Linked DNA regions of Homo sapiens: all the other regions are linked to region 2. Evidence: fine-mapped expression QTL. A gene starts in region 2. Each other region holds a variant in brackets. All regions are shown on one strand. Distances are from middle to middle. Region 1 overlaps HAPLN4 (hyaluronan and proteoglycan link protein 4). Region 2 holds the start of PBX4 (PBX homeobox 4). Region 3 overlaps PBX4 (PBX homeobox 4).

Region 1 (2,761 bases), 360 kb after region 2:
CGGCGATCTGTGCTAAGAGGTCAGGACCCAGCCGAAGTCCTCGGCGTTGACAGGCAGCTGGGGGGACATGATCCATGGACAAGGCCATCCCGGCCGTGGGAGACCCCAGTCCCGAAGTCTTGCCTGCAGGAGTACTGGGGTCCCCCTGGGGCCCTCTTTACTGTCACGTCATCTCTAGGAAACCTATCTCTGAGTTTTGGGACCAGGTCGGTTTGGGTTTGAATTCTGCCTCTTCTTGCTCACTGTGTGACCAAGTGACAAACTCCTTCTGAACCTGTGTTCTCCCACTGTACCAGGGCTGTTCTGTGGTCCCCGTGAGTGCCAAGCATACAGTAGGGGCTCAATAAATCCTTGTTTCTTTTGATGAATGAGAAAATGAGGCAGCCAGTGGGTAATTCCTGTATAAATGCACTTTGGTAGATAAGATGTTACAAGCTTGGGGGGCTTGGGGTTTTTTTTGTTTTGTTTTTTTGAGATGGAGTCCTGCCCTGTCGCCCAGGCTGGAGTGCAGTCGTGCAATCTTGGCTCACTGCAACCTCTGCCTCCCGGGTTCAAGTGATTCTCCTGCCTCAGCCTCCCGAGTAGCTGGGATTACAGGTGCCTGCCACCACACCCGGCTAATTTTTGTATTTTTAGTAGAGACAGGGTTTCACCATGTTGGCCAGGCTGGTCTTGAACTCCTGACCTCAGGTGATCTACCCACCTCGGCCTCCCAAAGTGTTGGGGTTACAGGTGTGAGCCACTGCGCCTGGCCGGGCTTGATTTTTATTCTCTTTGGAAGTGGGGTCCTTCATTCCTCCCCCACCTCCCCAATCTCTTGCTCCTCTTTCTTCCCCCATCCTGTGCCCACTGTCTCCCTTTAGCCACCCACCATGGGTCTGCTCCTTGTCAACTCTGTCCTGACTGGGTCATTGACAAGATCCAGGGCATGAAATTCGGGAAACTGGAAGGGGGGTTCCTGTACCAGGAAGGGAGAGACATTACAAACTTTCCCTGACATGAATATGTGGGCTGAGGGCAGGGGCTGAGGAAGCACTGGAAGTTTCTAGGATACAACAAAGCATGAAGAGAAAAAATAGTGTAAGGTCCTGACCGTGCACAGTGGATCATGCCTATAATCCCAGCACTTTAAGAGACCAAGGTGGGAGGATTGCTTGAGCCAGAAGGTCGAGGCTGCAGTGAGCCATGATTGTACCACTGCACTCCAG[C/T]TTGGGCGACGGAGTGAGACCCTGTCTCAAAAAATAAAAATAAGTAAATCTCCTCTTCCTCATTCTTCTGACAGTCTGAAGAGGATCAATGGTTTGGATTGAATGCATCATAATTTTGTAGTCAGGTTCCTAATGGTGGACATTTATATTGTTCTCAATATGTTTCTGCTAGAAGTAAGTATCCACATCATCACTCACAAGTTCAAGTATAACTGGAGGATGATATCAGAAGTTGTTTGTTCAGGCCGGGCACGGCAGCTCACACCTGTAATACCAGCACTTTGGAAGGCTGAGGTGGGCGAATCACGAGGTCAGGAGATCGAGATCATCCTGGCTAACATGGTGAAACCCCGTCTCTACTAAAAATACAAAAAATTAGCTGGGCGTGGTGGCAGGCACCTGTAGTCCCAGCTACTCAGGAGGCTGAGGCAGGAGAATGGCCTAACCTGGGATGCGGAGCTTGCAGTGAGCTGAGATAGCGCCACTGCACTCCAGCCTGGGCGACAGAGCGAGACTCCGTCTCAAAAAAAAAAAAAAAAAAAGAAGCTGTTTGTTCAAAGGGTCAAAACTCCCCATTTACCATTTTTTTTTTTTTTTTTTTTTTTTGAGACAGAGTTTTGCTCCTATTGCCCAGGCTGGAGTGCAATGTCACGGTCTCGGCTCACCTCAACCTCTGCTTCCCGGGTTCGAGCGATTCTTCTGCCTAAGCCTCTAAAGTAGCTGGGATTACAGGCGCCTGCCACTGCGCCCAACTAATTTTTCTGTTTTTAGCAGAGATGGGGTTTTACCATGTTGGCCAGGTTGGTCTCGAACTCCTGACCTCAGGTGATCCACCTGCCTTGGCCTCCTACGGTGCTAGTATTACAGGCATGAGCCACTGTGCCCAGACTAAAACTCGCCGTTTTCATAGTGATTTCCACATTTTCTTAGAGATGGGGCCAATTTATACTCCACAGGTAATAGATATACTCACCTGGCTGGGCATGGTGGCTCACGGCTGTAATCCCAACAGTTTGGGAGGCCGAGGCGGGTGGATCACCTGAGGTCAGGAGTTCGAGACTAGCCTGGCCAACATGGCAAAACCCCATCTCTACCAAAAATACAAAAATTAGCCCAGCATGGTGGCAGGCACCTGTAATCCCAACTACTCGGGAGGTTGAGGCAGGAGAATCACTTGAACTGAGGAGGCGGAGGTTACAGTGAGGTGAGACTGCACCACTGCACTCCAGCCTGGGCAACAGAGCAAGACCCCTTCTCAAAAAAAAAAAAAAGTACTCACCTGTTCCACACATCCTCATTAGCCTCATGTCTTGTCACTTTTTATTTTTGTCAATCTGATAGGTGAAAAATGGTATCTCAATGTGGTTGTTGCTTGCGTTTCTATTTGTGAGGTTGAACATCTCCAACCACCACCACCAACTTTGACCTTAGGTGCAGGCGGTCGAGCAAATCGTAAATCATTCACAGTTCAAGCACATTATCATCTTTGATATATGCAAGGATCTTTTTTTTTTTTTTAGATGGAGATCACTCTATCACCCAGGCTGGAGTGC
Region 2 (2,761 bases):
TCGGTCAATGTCTTTCATTTTTCACTCCCTGCCGTCCCCTTTGGAGTCTCCCGACGCTCTCCAATCCAGCCATACCAGATGGTGTTTGAATTTCCTCCCCAGCAGCAATGGAGAGAACGTGGGCCCCACCCTGGAAGGGCTCCCAGCCAGCAGGCTGAGGACCTTTTACTGAGCCCACATCTGGAGACTGTCCTCATAGCAAATAGGCTCCAGGAGGTTCTGTGACTTTGGAGAAGAGATTCATGTCCAGGCCATTACTTTTTTTTTTTTTTTTTTTTTTTGAGACCTGGTCTCCGTCAACCAGGCTGCAGTGCAGTGGTGCAATCATGGCTCACTGCAGCCTCAAATTCCCAGGCCCAAGTGATCCTCCCACTTCAGCCTCTCAAGTCCCAAATAGCTGGGACCACAGGCGTGCACCACCACGGGGTCTCACTATGTTGCCCAAGCTGGTCTCAAACTCCCGTGCTCAAGTGATCCTCCCGCCTCTGCCGCCCAAAGTGCTAGGATTACAGGCATGAGCCACCGCCCAGTTCCTTTTCTTGTGCACTAGGAGCCTTCGATGCTGTGTCCTAAGGACTAGAAACAAAGATGTGAGGATTCGCTCTGATTTGGGGTACACTGCAGGGGAGTCTCTCAGTAAACATCCTTCCTTCATTCGGTAACCACGTGGTAGCATTTTCTATGCCCAGAACTGTAATCTGCGAAGATGAATAAACAAGCGAGGTCACTCTTCAGCTGGACCTTGAAAGGTGACTGGAATTGATTTCTGCAGTGGAGAAAAGCGCTGCGTTCTGACCTCCTCGTTGCCATCAACCACGCACGCCTGCGCCCCGCCTTAGCCAGGTGAACGGGGCGTGGAAAGCTCTAGAGGAAGAGCCAGGGGCCCCAGTGGCCCACCTGATGGGGCTGAGGATGCAGGGAGCATTAGGGGGACTGAGCAGGGGTCTGGGGCTTGGGGCTTCTGGAAATGAATGGGGGCTGTCGATCAAGCTATAAGAGGTGTGGGGTTCTGAGGAGGAGGGGGTGGCTTGGAGGAAGAGTTGGGGTGCTCTGGGGAGTGAGGGTCTCTGAGGACCGAGGGCTTTGAGGAGAAGGGGGCCCTGAGGAGGAGCAGGAACTCTGAGGAGATGCGAGTGGGGCTGAAGGAGGCGTGCACCGCGCGAGATGTGAGGGATGGGGGCCTCTGGCTGGAGCGGAGCCAGCGCTGCCCTCTCTCAAGGGGAAGGAGGGCGCTTATGAGAAGTGCCGTTGCCTCGGCAACCCCAAACCCAGTCCAAGCCCGGAGAGGGGGAAGTTCGGGGCGAGTCCCGGGGGCGGTGCGTGGCGCCGGTTGGCTGACGGAGATGAAGGGGCGTGTCTGTAGGCGGTGCAATACACGGGTTGGCTGGCGATAGCGGCGGTGGGCGTGGCTTAGGCGCGAGCGAGAGCGGGCGCGGCGCTCAGGCAGCGGCGGTTGGCTGCGGCGCCAGTGGTAGTGCTCCAGGCTCGACGGCACCCTCACAGCGCCCGCCCGGCCCTGCCGCTCATGGCCGCCCCGCCGCGCCCCGCGCCATCGCCCCCCGCCCCGCGGCGCCTCGACACGAGCGACGTCCTGCAGCAGATCATGGCCATCACCGACCAGAGCCTGGACGAGGCACAGGCCAGGTGCTGCCCGCGGGCTCGGCAGGGGCCACGCAGGGTCGTGGCAGTGAGGTTGGCGGGCTGAGGGGACGGGGCGTGGAGGCCAGACTGACGAGGGGCGCTTGAGGAGGGCTGGAGGGGGGTCCCGAGGACGAAGGGATGTATGGGGTTCAAACGGAACGGGCTGGATAGGCCTTATGGGGCCGAGCAGTGGCGTGAAGGATTTTCAGCAGCTCATCTTGGGGCGAGAAGGTTGGGTTTAGGGGTTTAGGGAGTAGGGCTGAGAAATGGGCACGTACGGGACTTTTGACGAGTGAATGACTAAATGGGTACGTTAATGGGACTCCTGCGGCTGGAAGTTTTTTTGTTGTTGTTTGACACGGTCTTGCTCTGTCGCCCAGGCTGGAGTGCAGTGGCGTGATCATGGCTCACTGCAGCATCCACCTCCCCGGCTCAGTTGATTCTCCTGCCTCAGCCTCCCGAGTAGCTGGGACCACAGGCGCACGTGCAACCACGCCCGGCTGATTTTTTTGTATATTTTGTAGAGACAGGGGTCTCGCTATAGTTGCTTAAACTCCTGGGTTCAAGCACTCATTCCGTCTCGGCCTCCCTAAGTGCTGGGATTACAGGCGCGAGCCACCGAGCCCGGCCTGTGGGTGGGAAGTTTCCAGGGCAGATGATGGAGAGTGAGTGGCTGGGAATGGGACTCAGGAATGTCTGCAGGAGACTGAAGAACTGAACTGGGGTAACTTGGTGTGGGAACCATCGAGAACTTTTGGGAAAAGGGTTAGTAGAGGAGTGGGTGGAGATGGAAGACCTATTTTCTTTTTAATGAATTCAGCAAATTTTTATTGAATCCTTACAATAACTGGATAGGGAACCGGGTGCTGACATAGTCCCTGCTCTCGAGTACATGATTTAGGGGAGGGAATGTAAATAGCAAAAAATAAGGACTGGGTGGAGTGGCTCACATCTCTAATCACAGCACTTTAGGAGGCTGAGGCAGGAGGATTGCTTGAGCTCAGGAGTTCGAGACCAACCTGGACAATGTAGTAAGACCTCGTCTCTACTAAAAATAAAATTAAAAAATTAGTTAGGTGTGATGATGCAAGCCTGTAGTCCCAGCTACTTAGGAGGCTGA
Region 3 (2,761 bases), 32 kb after region 2:
TGGTGTGTGGTGGGAAGCTATCAGAACAAGAAATGTAGGCATTTACTCTTTTTTTTTTTTTTTTTTTTTAATTTGAGACGGAGTCTTGCTCTGTCACCCAGGCTGGAGTGCAATGGCTCGATCTTGGCTCACCACAACCTCTGCCTCCCGGGGTCAAGCAGTTCTCCTGCCTCAGCTGCCCAAGTAGCTGGGATTACAGGAGTCCGCCACCACGCCCGGCTAATTTTTGTATTTTTAGTAGAGATGGGGTTTCACCACGTTGGCCAGGCTGGTCTCAAACTCCCGACCTCAGGTGATATGCCCGCCTTGGCCTTCCAAAGTGCTGGTATTACAGGCGTGAGCCACTGCTCCCGGCCTACTGTTTTAACACTTGTACTGGTGTCATGTTATTTTCATTCTGAGAAATTGGAAACCCTTTCTATTGCTATTAATAAAGTTCGTGTTTATTTTCTGGTAGTCAAAAAACAAAAACAAAACAAAAAAACAAAAATTAGCTGGGTGGGGTGGCGGGTGCCTGTAATCCCAGCTACTTGTGAGGGTGAGGCAGGAGAATCACTTGAACCTGAGAGGCAGAGGTTGCAGTGAGCCAAGATTGTGCCACTGCACTCCAGCCTGGGCAATAGAGTGAGACTGCGTCTCAAAAAAATTAAAAAGAAAAAGAAAATTGTTTATGGTAGATAGAAGCCATCAGTGAGTGCTGTTTTTCTTTTTCTTTTTCTTTTTCTTTTTTTGAGACGGAATCTCACTCTGTCGCCCATGCTGGAGTACAGTGGCGCGATCTCGGCTCACTGTAACCTTCACCTCCTGGGTTCAAACGATTCTCCTGCCTCAGCCTCCTGAGTAGCTGGGACTACAGGTGCATGCCACCACGCCTGGCTAATTTTTTGTATTTTTAGTAAAGATGGGGTTTTACCGTGTTAGCCATGATAATCCTGATCTCCTGACTTCGTGGCCTCCCAAAGTGCTGGGATTACAGGCAGGAGCCATCATGCCCGGCCAAGTGCTGTTTTTCTTAGCTGTGGCTCTTAAATGTTTGCAACTCCTCACAGGGGCTTGTTTTTCCAGATGTGCTGCCTGGCACATCTGGAAAAATATATATTACAGCACTATATATTACAGTGTTTTGCTGTCTTCCTTTTGCCCTGTTACCACATGCAAGGACAGTAGCACAGAAAAACAAGCCTAAACCGCATATCATTTTTACTCAGCATTAGCAGCTCATATAATTGTTTGTTTATTTTTTGAGACAGGGTCTTGCTCTGTCTCAAAGAGACAGGCTGGAGTACAGTGGCATGATCATGGCTCAATGCATTCTTGACTTCCCAGGTTCAGGTGATCCTCCCACCTCAGCCTCTCAAGTAGCTGAGACTACAGATAGAAGCCACCATATCC[G/A]GCTAATTTTTGTACTTTTTATAGATGGGGGTCTTGCTGTGTTGCCCAGGCTGGTCTGGGACTCCTGGGCTTAAGTGATCCTCCCGTCTCAGCCCCTCAAAGTGCTAGGATTACAGGCATAAGCCACCACATGCTCAGCCTATTTATTTTTTAAATGTACAGAACAGTAGGCATTTTTTTAAAAATCACATACTAGTTTATTTCAGAACTGCAGTGTTTTAATTAACAAACATGTAAACATATGGAAATGAAATTAATTTGCATATTTGATTGTGGTTCCAGCATCTTCATTTCTCACGCGTCCGTGTGAAGAGACCACCAAACAGGCTTTCTGTGAGCAACATGGCTGTTTATTTCACCTGGGTGCAGGTGGGCTGAGTCCAAAAAGAGAGTCAGCAAAGGGTGGTGGGATTATCATTAGTTCTTATAGGTTTTGGGATAGGCGGTGAAGTTAGGAGTAATGTGTTTTTTGGGCAGGGGGTGGATCTCACAAAGTACATTCTCAAGGGTGGAAAGAATTACAAAGAACCTTCTTAAGGGTGGGGGAGATTACAAAGTACATTGATCAGTTAGGGTGGGGCAGAAACAAATTACAATGGTGGAATGTCATCAGTTAAGGCTATTTTCACTTCTTTTGTGGATCTTCAGTGGCTTCAGGCCATCTGGATGTATACGTGCAGGTCACAAGGGATATGATGGCTTAGCTTGGGCTCAGAGGCCTGACACACTTCAGTTGTGACTGGTTGTGATGTATTTTAATTAGAGATGACGGAGATTTGCCTAGTGTGATAATCCCTCAGTTGGGTGAATATCTAGTGTGTGGCAGCCACTATTTCAGAAACTGATGAGTGTTTTTTAAGGGTTATTCTTTTTAAAGTCCTGTGGATCTGAGAAACTTCCATGACTTAAGATAAGGATTTATCTAGAATGTTACTTTTTTTTTTTGAGATGGAGTCTCACACTGTCACCCAGGCTGGAGTATAGTGGCGCAATCTGGACTCACCTCAACCTCTGCCTCCCGGGTTCAAGAGATTCTCCTGCCTCAGCCCCCCAAGTAGCTGGAATTACAGGTGTGCACTACCACGCCCAGCTAATTTTATATTTTTAATAGAGATGGGGTTTCACCATGTTGGCCAGGCTGGTCTGCCTCAGAGAACAGAACAAAGCCTGTTCTAGCGCCTGTCCTAGAATGTTACTTAAATGAACTAACCTGTGGGATGTGGCCTAAAAGGTAAAGCCAGGCAGTTCTTAATACAAACAGGCTGGGCTCCAGAAGTCTCCTTGTTTAGAGTTAAGGAGTAAACTCAGTGCCCATGATGCCCAGGAAACCATAAGATAAAACAGCCCTTGGGCCAGGAGGTGGCTCGCG

The links.
Region 1: its variant is fine-mapped to the expression of PBX4 in whole blood (TOPMed, PIP above 0.99).
Region 3: its variant is fine-mapped to the expression of PBX4 in whole blood (TOPMed, PIP 0.95).

Annotation. Positions count from the first base shown.
Region 1 is chr19:19,253,256-19,256,016 of GRCh38, reverse strand. HAPLN4 (hyaluronan and proteoglycan link protein 4) reads left to right here. Exons shown (of 5, transcript NM_023002.3): 5 at 1-1,261. Among named protein-coding and RNA genes, the nearest start is that of HAPLN4, 8.2 kb to the left of the region's middle. The variant C/T (reference allele first, on the strand shown) is at 1,209.
Region 2 is chr19:19,617,394-19,620,154 of GRCh38, reverse strand. It overlaps PBX4 (PBX homeobox 4), which reads left to right and starts at 1,468. Exons shown (of 8, transcript NM_025245.3): 1 at 1,468-1,644. The coding sequence starts at 1,526. RefSeq lists a silencer at 1,477-1,686.
Region 3 is chr19:19,584,901-19,587,661 of GRCh38, reverse strand. All of the region lies in intron 2 of PBX4 (PBX homeobox 4), which reads left to right. It also overlaps the pseudogene PHF5AP1. Among named protein-coding and RNA genes, the nearest start is that of PBX4, 32 kb to the left of the region's middle. The variant G/A (reference allele first, on the strand shown) is at 1,393.